Homo sapiens: one gene and its partners. The protein of the gene in region 2 purifies or fractionates together with the protein of the main gene of each other region. This does not show direct contact. Each region holds a gene or a part of one and is shown on either strand. Other genes may lie near its edges. The genes, in order: SNAP29, LURAP1L and SNTB2.

What was found.
Region 1: the proteins of LURAP1L (region 2) and SNAP29 purify together in Homo sapiens (affinity purification with mass spectrometry; 2 studies listed by BioGRID and IntAct, with this or other methods). This does not show direct contact.
Region 3: the proteins of LURAP1L (region 2) and SNTB2 purify together in Homo sapiens (affinity purification with mass spectrometry; 3 studies listed by BioGRID and IntAct, with this or other methods). This does not show direct contact.

Annotation. Positions count from the first base shown.
Region 1 is NC_000022.11:20,861,856-20,865,506, forward strand, and holds part of SNAP29 (synaptosomal-associated protein 29), read left to right. Parts: intron 1-3,651. UniProt on the Homo sapiens protein: SNAREs, soluble N-ethylmaleimide-sensitive factor-attachment protein receptors, are essential proteins for fusion of cellular membranes.
Region 2 is NC_000009.12:12,781,421-12,785,071, forward strand, and holds part of LURAP1L (leucine rich adaptor protein 1-like), read left to right. Parts: intron 1-3,651.
Region 3 is NC_000016.10:69,185,587-69,189,337, reverse strand, and holds the start of SNTB2 (beta-2-syntrophin), read right to left. Parts: upstream 2,175-3,751; 5' UTR 2,172-2,174; coding exon 1,592-2,171; intron 1-1,591. UniProt on the Homo sapiens protein: Adapter protein that binds to and probably organizes the subcellular localization of a variety of membrane proteins. May link various receptors to the actin cytoskeleton and the dystrophin glycoprotein complex.

The DNA of each region.
Region 1 (3,651 bases), on a different chromosome or scaffold from region 2:
AACTCCTGACCTCATGATCCACCTGCCTTGGCCTCCCAAAGTGTTGGGATTACAGGCGTGAGCGACCACACCTGGCCTCTGATTTTTGTATTTTTAGTAGAGACAGGTTTCGCCATGTTGGGCAGGCTGGTCTCAAACGCCTGACCTTAGGTGATCTGCCCACCTCAGCCTCCCAAAGTGCTGGGATTACAGATGTGAGCCACTGCGCCCGGTCCTAACCTTGTTAGGGAGGTTTTGCCTGTAGTTCTTACATCTCATACCTACTGGATTCCTATGTTCCATTCTAAATGGGAAGTCTTGGCTTAGATTTGAGAGGATTGCCTGAGGTTTTAGGGCCCTGGTGAATGGGTCACATGATTGAGGATCTCAAGCCCAAGGAATTCAACTAACAACTATTTAAGGAGACATCTTTGTAAACTGAGAACAAATGAAGTAGGGAATCAATGATTCAAAGTAGGGCATTGTGGCAGAGGATAAACTTGAATCTAGCTTTTAAGGCTGAGGTTTACACAAGAGGAGTGAGAATGAGGGATGTTCTTAGGGAAGACAGGAAAATATGCAAATGCACTGGCCCAGCAACAGAGCTCCTGGGTCCAGAGGAGGGACATGATAGACTGGGTGTGTTAGAGGACAGGGGATGGAGGAGGTAGCTTAGGAGCCCTTGGAGGTCATAGGGAAAGTTCTGGTCTCATAGCGCAGGAGAGGCAAAAATGTAATAGTGGTGAGTTTGATATAGATTGTGATGACATGCCCCGTGCTGCCCCCAAAGGTCTTTCTATGCAGTGGGGACAGTGAGAGCTGAGGCAGAGTGGCACTTCAGGCATATCAGGCTTGGCCAGGCCAGGCATTGCTGTGAGAAGTACAGTGTGGTCATGACTGGGCAGGTGACAGGTGCTCTTGTCAGTGAGACAACATGTTGGAATTTTCCAGGATTGGGTCAGTTCTCAATTATGAGAAGCCCTGGGAGTCAGGGATGACCTACATCTCCACCACACCCAGTGTTCTCCAAGCTGTCTTTGTTTTTGTGTTTTGTTTTGGGGGAGGTTTTTTGAGATGGGGGTCTCACTCTGTCAACCAGGCTAGAGTGCCGTGGTGCAATCTTGGCTCACTGCAGCCTCTGCCTCCAGGTGCAAGTGATCCTCCTGCCACAGCCTCCCAAGTAGCCAAGACTACAGGTGCACGCCACCACACTCGACTAATTTTTGGTATTTTTGGTGGAGATGGGCTTTCGCCATGTTACCCAGGCTAGTCTCGAATTCCTGAGCTCAGATGATCTGCACACCTTGGCCTCCCAGTGCTGGATTACAGGCTCCAAGCTGTCTTTGAATCACTCTAATCACTCTTTCATTCCCTTTGGTGTTGGGATGGGAACAGAGGAGTATGAGCTCTTCCAACCCTCAGTGCACAGTGTGGCTTCCAGCAAATTCCAGCATACCCTGCTAATCACCCAACTTAGGTGCCTGGTTACCCCAGCACTGTGAAACATGCCAACACATGACAGATTTATGTCAAAGATGAGGACTTTACAAATTATATTAGGTTGGGAAGATTATAATTCAGTCCCAGCTTGGCAGGAAAATGGCTTAGTTAAGTCACCTCTAGCAAAGAGAGCTGCCCTTCTCCTACTGTGAAACCTGGCAAGGATTGTTTCTCACAAAGGCTCAGGCCACAGGCTATGACCACAAAAGAACAGAGGAGAAGTAGTGGGAGCAGGGCGGTTTCCCCAGGCCGACCTGGTAGGCGCTTTGTAGAACTACAGGGAGACTTGTAAGCCACTCGTCTCTTTCCCTGTTTAGTAAGCATGATTTCTTCTTTTTTTTTTCCTAAGGTTTAATTTTTATGAAGAGAGATTCCAATCACATGGTTCAAAATTTCAAAACATACAAAAGGGTGTAGTCTTCTCCCACTTCCCTCCCTATCATCCCTCTGCCCCTAAGGCAGCCAGGCACTTTCCCTCCTTCAGTGTTTTGGGGAGATAATGCCGTGGATAAAAATGGGTTTTTTTTTTTAAGTGAAGTATTGTATACATTCTGGTCTGCATGTGCTTAATAGAATGGAGTTTGTTCCACACTAGTATGTAATGAGCTGGGCTTTCTTTTTGGCTGTGTTGTATTCCATTGAACAAATGACTTCTATTTATGCAGCCTGTCCCCTAATGATGAGCATTGAGGTTGTTTACACCTTTTGGTGAGTCTATTTGCATCCTACTTGGACATGGTTTTTGTACACCTTTTCATCACTCCAGTGGAGGAGACTCACCTGCCCAGGACACTCTGCTTCCCCTCTTGTAGCTGAACTTAACTCCACTGAGGTTTTCTGGGGCCCGAGATCTCGGTTCAGGGGAGTCCAGCAACAAACATTAGACCAGGGTTGGAACGGCTGGCACAGTAACATCAATGGAAAGGGACAGAGTTTGAGAGTTCAAACGTGATGCACTCAGCAGCCACCGCCAGCACATCCTCCACACCGTCTCGTGCAGGGGCCCACCCATCTCTGTGTCTTTCCAGCACACAACAGTCACCCACACTGGGCATTCCATTCAGAGGTGGGAGAGAGGAGGACACCCCTCCTGGCCCAGGAGCAGAGGCCATCAAGGTGTCCCCGGAACTTAGAGTAGATACATTGCCAAAAGGTGATATCCTCATTCTCAGGGATTCTGGTCTTGGAGCAGCCCACTCCAAATGAGGGGCCGTACAGACCAAAGTCACCCCTCTGAGGCAGCGTGTGGTGATACTGATGCAGCCAGAGTTCTTAGCAAAAGTTGATGGATGGGGACAAGCAGCTGCTAGATTAAGTAATTCCTCAAATTTGTAAATGTCAGCAGTGGAAGAGGAGCAGTCTCTTACCCATCTCTTGCTCAACTTTCTACCCCCACGCTTCTCAGCACAATGTCCTTAAGCGTTATTGGCGCTCCCAAAATAGTTGCCAAATGAATAAGTGACCTGGGGAAGGAAAGGAAGGAGGGAGGGAACAGAAGATTGCCTGAAAAAGGAGGAGAGAGTTGGGTGGAAAGAATGCATTGAGCTGTGTGCCTTGGTTGCAATGCCTGTCCTGTGACCAGAAAATGCATCCCAACACATGTCAGGCTGTGTCTAGCAGGTGGGAGGGAGTCTGGTGGAGAAATGGCATTGGACCACATACTCACCGCTAGGTCTGTTCGGGATTTATTTTTAATTAATTTTTGGTAAACTATCAATGATTGAATTTGACCATTGATGGCCAGGTGTGGTGGCTCACACCTGTAATCCTAGCACTTGGGGAGGCTGAGGCAGGTGGATCCCTTGAACCCAGGAGTTCAAGATCAGCCTGGGGAATGTGGTAAAACCCTGGCTCTACAAAAAATACAAAAATTACCTGGGCATGGCGGTGCATGCCTGTAGTTCCAGCTACTCAGAAGGCTGAGGTAGGAGGATCTCTTGAACCAGGGAGGTCAAGGCTGCAGTGAGCTGAGGTCATGCCACTGTATTCCAGCCTGGGTGACAAAGTGAGACCCTGTCTCAAAAAAAAAAAAGAATTAGACCATTGATCCCAGGCCAATTTGCTGGCTTGTTGGCTGTAACAGGATGCCTTCTGAGGATGGGCTGGTTGTTCGAGCTTCTGGCTTCTCCTTCCTGGGCACATCCACTCACAGCTGCCACATTGTCCCAAGGA
Region 2 (3,651 bases):
GCCTCTGGTAACCATCATTCTACTTCCTAGCTCCATGAGTTCAACTGTTTTCATTTTTAGCTCCCACGAATAAGTGAGACCACGCCAAGTTTGTCTTTCTGTGCCTGACTTATTTCACTTGTCACGAAATCCTCCACTTCCATCCATGTTGTTGCAAATGACAGATTCTAATTCTTTTCTTCTGGCTGATTAGTACTCTATTGTGCGTACGTACAACATTTTCTTTATCCGTTTGTCTCTTGATGGACACAGGTTGCTTGTAAATCTTAGCTATTGTGAATAGTGCTGCAATAGACACAGGAGTGAAGATATCTATTTGATATATTGATTTCCTTTCTCCTGAGTATATACCTAGTAGTGGGATTGCTGGATTATATATTAGTTCTAATTTTATTTTTTTAAGGAATCTCGAAACTGTTCTCCATAGTGGCTATGCTAATGTACATTCCCACCAACAGTGTACAAGGGTTCCCTTTTGTCCATATCCTCACCGGCATTAATTATTGTTTGTTGTTTGGATAAAAGCCATTATAACTGGGGTGAGATAATATTTCATTGTAGTTTTGATTTGCATTTCTCTGGTGATCAATTATGTTGAGCACTTTTGAATATACCTGATTGTCATTTGGATGTCTTTTGAGAAATGTCTATTCAGATCTTTTGTCTATTTTTTAATCAGATTATTAGACATTTTTCCTACTGAGTTGTTTGAGCTACTTATGTATTCTGCCAGTTAATTCCTTGTCAGATGGGTAGTTTGCAAATATTTTCTCCCATTTCATGGGTTGTCTCTCCACTTTGTTGGTTGTTTCCTTTGCTGTGCAGAAGTTTTTAACTTGATGTGATCCCATTTTTCCATTTTTGCTTCGGTTGCCTATGCTTATGGGATATTCCTCAAGAAGTCCTTGTCCAGAGCAATGTTATAGAGAGTTTCCCCAATGTCTTCTTTTGGTACTTTTATGTTTTAGATGTAAGTCTTTGATTAGATTTTGTATATGGCAAGAGATAGGGGTCTAGTTTCATTCTTCTGCATATGGATATGTAGTTTTGGCAGTACCATTTATTGAAGAGACTATCTTTTCTCCAGTGTATGTTCTTGGCATCTTTGTGAAAAATGAGTTCACTGTAGGTATGTGAATTTGTTTGTCAGTTCTCCATTTTGTTCCATTGCTCAGTGTGTCTGTTTTTATGCCAGTATCATGCTGTTTTGGTTACTATAACTCTGTAGTATAATTTGAAGTCAGTTTTGTTCTTTTTGCTCTGGATGACTTTGGCTATTCAGGTTCTTTTCTGATCCCATATAAATTTTAGGATCTTTTTTCTATTTCTGTGAGGAATGTTACTGGTATTTTGATAAGGATTACATTGAATCTGTAGATTGCTTTGAGTAGTATGAACATTTAAAAAATGTTGATCTTCCAATCCATGAACATGGAATATCTTTTCATCTTTTTGTGTCTTATTCAATTTCTTGCATCGGTATTTTATAGTATTCATTGTAGAGATCTTTTACTTCTTTAGTTAAATCCTAGGTATTTAATTTTATTTGCAGTTATTTTAAATGGGATTACTTCTTGATTGCTTTTTCAGATTGTTTGCCGTTGGCATATAGAAATGCTACTGATTTTTATGTTAATTTTGTATCCTACAACTTTACTCAACTTATCAGTTCTAATGATTTCTTGGTGGAGTCTTCAGGTTTTTCCATATGTAAGATTATATCATTTGCAAATAAGAATAATTTGACTTTTTTTCTTCCCAATTTGGATGCCCTTTATTTCTTTTTCTTGTCTGATTGCTCTATCTAGGACTTCCAGTACTATGCTGATAAACAGTGATGAAGTGGGCATCCTCCTTATTTCCAGACCTTAGAGGAAAGCCTTTCAGTTTTCCCTCTTTCAGTATGATACCAGCTGTAGGTCTGTTTATATGGCTTTTATTGTGCAGTGGTAGATTCTTTCTATACCCAGTTTTTTGAGTTTTTATCATAAAGAGATGCCAAATTTTATCAAATGCTTTTCCAGTATCAACTGAAATTATCATATGGTTTATTCCTTCATTCTATTGATATGATGTATCACATTGGTGGATTTGCATATGTTGAACAGTCCTTGCATCCCTGGGATAAATTCCACTTGGTCATGATGAATGATTATCTTAATGTGTTGTTGAATTAGGTTCACTATTATTTTGTTTTGGATTTTTGCATCAATGTTTATCAGTGATATTGGCCTATACTTTCTCTTTTTTTGATACGTCTTTGCTTGATTTTGATATCAGGGTAATACTGGCCTAATAGACTGAGTTTAGAAGTATTCTCTCCTCTGTTTTTTGGAATAGTTTGGGTAGGATTGTTCTTCTTTAAATGTTTGGTAAAATTCAGCAATGAAGCTATGAGGTCCTGGGCTTTTTTTTTTTTTTTAATAATTTTGCATGCTTCATTCTTTTTTATTCTTTTATTTTGTCTCCCTCACTGTATATTTTCAATTAGCATGTCTTCAAGCTCACTAATTCTTTCTTCTCCTTGATCAGTTCTGTTGAGAGACTCGAATGCATTCTTCAGTATGTCAATTCAATTGTTTAGCTCCAGAATTTCAGCTTGATTTTTAAAAATTATTTCAATCTAATTTACATTTCATTTTACATTTTCATTATGGATAGGATTCTGAATTCTTTCTCTCTGTTATCTTGATTTGTTTAGCTTCCCAAACCAGCTATTTTGAGTTATCTGTCTGAGAGGTCACATATCTCTGTCACTCTGGGATTGGTTACTGGTGCCCTTATTTAGTTCATTTGGTGAGGTCATGTTTTCCTAAATGATCTTGATGCTTTTGAGTGTTCATCAATGTCTGGGTGTTGACAAGTGAGGTATTTATTGTAGTCTTCATAGTCTGGGCTTGCTTGTACCTGCCCTTCTTGGGAAGGCTTTAAAGAAGTATTTAAAGAAAATTGAGTGTTCAGATCTAAGTATTTGCCTATTGCAGCCATATCTGCCCAAGCCCAATAATAGTATGACTCTTGCAGACTAACAGAGGTAGCACTTTGGTGGTGTGGGGTACTATATGACAGAATTCCCTGGATTACCAAATAGAGACTCTTGTTCTCTTACTTTACCCCAAACAAACAAGTTTCTCTCTGTGCTGAGCTTCCTAGAATTGGAGGAGGGGTGACACGAGCACCTCTGTGGCCACCACTACTGCAACTGTGCTGAGTCAGACCTAAAGCCAACACAGTACTTGATGTCACCCGAGGCCTGTGGCAACTATTGCCTGGTCACCACTGATGTTTATTTAAGGCCCAAGGGCTCTTTAGTCAGCAGGTGGTGAATCATTCTAAACTTGTATTTTTCCCTTCAAGGTGGTGAGTTCCCTTCTGGCCCAGGGTGGGTGTAGAAATGCTGTCTGGGAGGGAGGGTCTGGAGTCGGGAACTTTAGGAATCTAGAATCTACTTGGTGCTTTATTTTACTTGGTAAAGCTACTTGGTAGCTGAGCTGATACCCAAATTCTGAGTCAAAGTCTTTTTTACTCTCCTCTCTTATTTCCTCAAGCAGAAGGAGTTTCTCCTCATGGCCACCACTGCCCTAGGCCCATGGCAAGTACTGCCTGGCTACCACTGATGTTTACTCAAGGCCCAAGGGCTCTTTTTCACCT
Region 3 (3,751 bases), on a different chromosome or scaffold from region 2:
ACCAACTTCAAGGTACACGTTTAGAGTAACAGTTTTTTTTGGACACACACCCAAACCACAATCTATAATTTTACTCCTTCTATTAACACTAATTTCCGAGCAATGTCTAGCCCCACCTAGACATGCAATATAAATAAGGTTTATAAATAGGATATTATAAAGGTGGGACACTGGAACTTCACAACTGGTGTACATGAAATCATTTCTGGTAAATCAGTATTTTTCCAAATATTCACAAGCTGATTTATAAGAAAGTGAAAATCCATTGTGCCAAGTTGGACTTCTGGCCTCTCGGTTTGACGATTGGTCCTTCTTCACCAGCAGCCCCCAGCCCTTCCCTTCTGTCCTTCCTCTGCCAGGAATACCCTCCTGACTCATCCCTGCCTGCCTATGTCCATCACTTCTTGGAGACCTGGCTCAAGATTCAGCTTCGGGAAAAAGTCCTCCCTGGCTAATTCCATCTCCACTAACTATTTTCTAACTTTGCATTCCTTTGGCATTTAAGTATAGTTTCACGACGTAATCACCAACTTCATTCCTTTCCTCCCTATAAGTTGTTTTGCATTTTTCTATCATTTCTCCAACTAGAGACCAAGTAGGGACAGCATCTTCTTTTATATTCTTTTCAACACAGCTAGCCATAATCACCAGTGAAAGAAAGCTGACCGCTCAAAAATTTCTGAAGAAAGCAGCTGACTTTTCGTTTATAATTTACAATACTCTATCACCTCCAACATGCATGAGTCCTTAGAGGAGAGGAATTTTATTTTTGCCTTAGTTCAAATTCATCATGAAAGATCCAACTTACAGATCACATACATATAACTTAACGTAAAGAATAATCCTGGTTATTGAAACCTATCTTGTGATTTGCCATTTCAAGTTTCTTACAAAAACCCCAAGAGTCTTGAAGCAGCGCGCCTGTGAGTGGTAGGAAGCTGGCAGCAGACTTGCAAAAGGGGCAAAACTCTAGTTGGCAGTAAATGTTCAAACACGTGAGCCTCCACTGTTAAACAAGGTTCGTTAACCACACAGACTTGCTGTTTCAGCTTTCTGGCTTCAATGAAATGCTATGATCTCCTTTGGTTATTGTTGAGAGCCAATGATGGGTTAAATTCCCATAAATTAACCAGCGCTTTGGTGGTTTGCCCGAGCATACCGCTGGCATCGGTGAAGATGGACTTTTTTTTTTTTTTAATAGACCCGCCCGCCCCGAGGAGCCAGAGGTGAGTGAGTTAAGCGCCAACCCGGCACTTCTCAGCGGGCAAACGGAGACAGACCCACTCGAGCCGTTCGCTCTCCCTCAAGTTCTTAGTGTCAGCTTATCGGGCCGAGGTGGGGCTTCATAGGCAGCTGCTTTTTACTCAATCTCAGCCGAGTCTTCCCTAGGGGCTGCAAGCCACACTTCGGCGGCTGCCCAACTTTTCCTGCAAGAAGCATCCGTTTTTCCACACTGAAAGCTCCAGAAACCCGGGTTTGGAGAGAGACGGGGAGAGAACCGGCTCGCCCCGCCGGCGGGGCAGGAACAAAGTGAGCTCCCGCGAGCCCAGGCCGCCGCGGCCTGCCCACCCTCCCGCCCGGCCCCGCTCACCCTCCAGCAGCACCTCCTTGCCCGCGCGCTTCAGCGCCTGCACGGCCTGGTCGTGGGTGGCCTGGCGCAGGTCGGTGCCGTTCACCGACAGGATGGCGTCGCCCAGCCGCAGCGCCCGGCTCTGGTCGGCAGCCAGCCCGGGGAAGATCTTGGAGATGAGGATCGGCATCCGGTTCTCGCGGCCGCCCTTGATGCTGATGCCCAGGCCGCCCGCCTCTTGCTTCACCACCCGCACCCGGCGCACGGGCGGCGACGCGCCCGCCTCACCCGCGGGGCCCCGAGGCGGCGCCGGCGGGCTCGGGGGCCCCAGGCCGCGGCTTGGGCTCCCGGGCAGCGAGTCGCCCGCGCCGCCGCCGTTTGGGAGGCCGTTGAAGGCGGCGGCCGCGGGTCCCAGAGCGGGCTCCAGCTCGGCCGCGGCGGCGTCGCCCGTCAGGCTCAGGCTCTCCCCGCTCAGCTCGGCCACCACTCGGACCCAGCGCTCCCTCAGGAGCAGCTCCACCAGCCCCGCTTTGGTGGCCCGCGTCCACACCGCCATGGCCGGCCCCGCTCCAGCCGCCGCAGTCGCCGCAGCTACCCTCATTCCAGTCAGGCAGCCTCGGCGCTTCCCTCTTCCCGCCCGGAGGGGCGGGCCCGGCCCCTCCCCCGCACGATTCATTATTCATGAGGCCACGCCTGCCTCTGGAGGGGCGGGGCCGGCGCAGCCGCTTCCGGGAGGTGCAGAAGTTGTCCGATCACTCGCCTCTCGCCGGACGTGGGCAACCCGAATGCGGTGGGACTGCATTTCTCCTCATCCTTCCATTGGCTCCCCACGGACCCCCCAGAAACTCCTGACCTCTACCGTGCAATTCACGGGAGCTGCCCGGGCACGGAAAGCAAAATCAGCTTGGAGAAACACTTCTCAAGCCTGCAAGACCCGGTGGCACGTTCATTCTTGCATTGATTGGTTCGTACCCTGTGTACTGAGCGCTTAGCCCTGTACTCCGGCTCCTTTTGAGGCCCTGTACTTAAGCTCAATAGTACCAACAACAGCTGAGAGTTTGCGGTCTAGTGGGGAAGGAAAATGCAGAACCAACCAACTAGGTGTGATACTATGTGGTTAAGTGACATGCAGAAGACGTCCCCAGAACAGCATAAAAGGAACATTTGGTTAGGCCTGGGGTCAGCTTCACAGAGGTAACAACGGACGGTGAACAGCTCAAGCAAAGGTCCAACAGCATGATCCAAGCCTTTGTCAATGTTTTGTAATCTCGTTTACTTGCCTGTAATTCAAGAGGGAACCATGTCTTCTTAAACCCTGAAGCCACAATTGGCAGGCCTCAAGGATATTTGCAGAATGATGGTGTCTTAGGGTTCTTCAGAGAAACCAACCAATAGGATATATAGAGATATATAAATTTATTATTATTACAAGGGACTGGCCACGAGATTATGGATGCTGAGAAGTCCCACGATCTGCCATCTGCAAACTGCAGGCCCAGGAAAGTTGGTGGTGCACTTCCAATCCAAGCCCAAAGGCCTGAGACCCAGAATCAGTGGTATAAACCTGAGATTGAAAGTCTGGGCCGGGCGCGGTGGCTCAAGCCTTTAATCCCAGCACTTTGAGAGGCTGAGGTGGGCGGATCACCTGAGGTCACGAGTTTGAGACAAGCCTGACCAACATGGAGAAACCCCATCTCTACTAAAAATACAAAAAATTAGCCGGGCGTGGTGGCACATGCCTGTAATCCCAGCTACTTGGGAGGCTGAGGCAGGAGAATTGCTTGAACCTGGGAGGCAGAGATTGCGGTGAGCTGAGATGGCACCATTGCACTCCAGCCTGGGCAACAAGAGCAAAACTCTGCCTCAAAAAAAAAAAAAAAAAAAGAAAGAAAGAAAGAAAGAAAAAGAAAGTCTGGGCCGGGTGCAGTGGCTTACACCTGTAATCCCAGCACTTTGGGAGGCCAAGGCGGTGGATCACCTGGGGTCAAGAGTTATAGACCAGTCTGGCCAACATGGTGAAACCCCGTCTCTACTAAAAATACAAAAAATTAGCCAGGTGTGGTGGCAGGCGCCTGCAATCCCAGCTACTCAGGAGGCTGAGGCAGGAGAATCGCTTGAATCCGGGAGGCAGAGGTTGCAGTGAGCCAAGATTGCACCACTGCACTCCAGCCTGGGCAACAA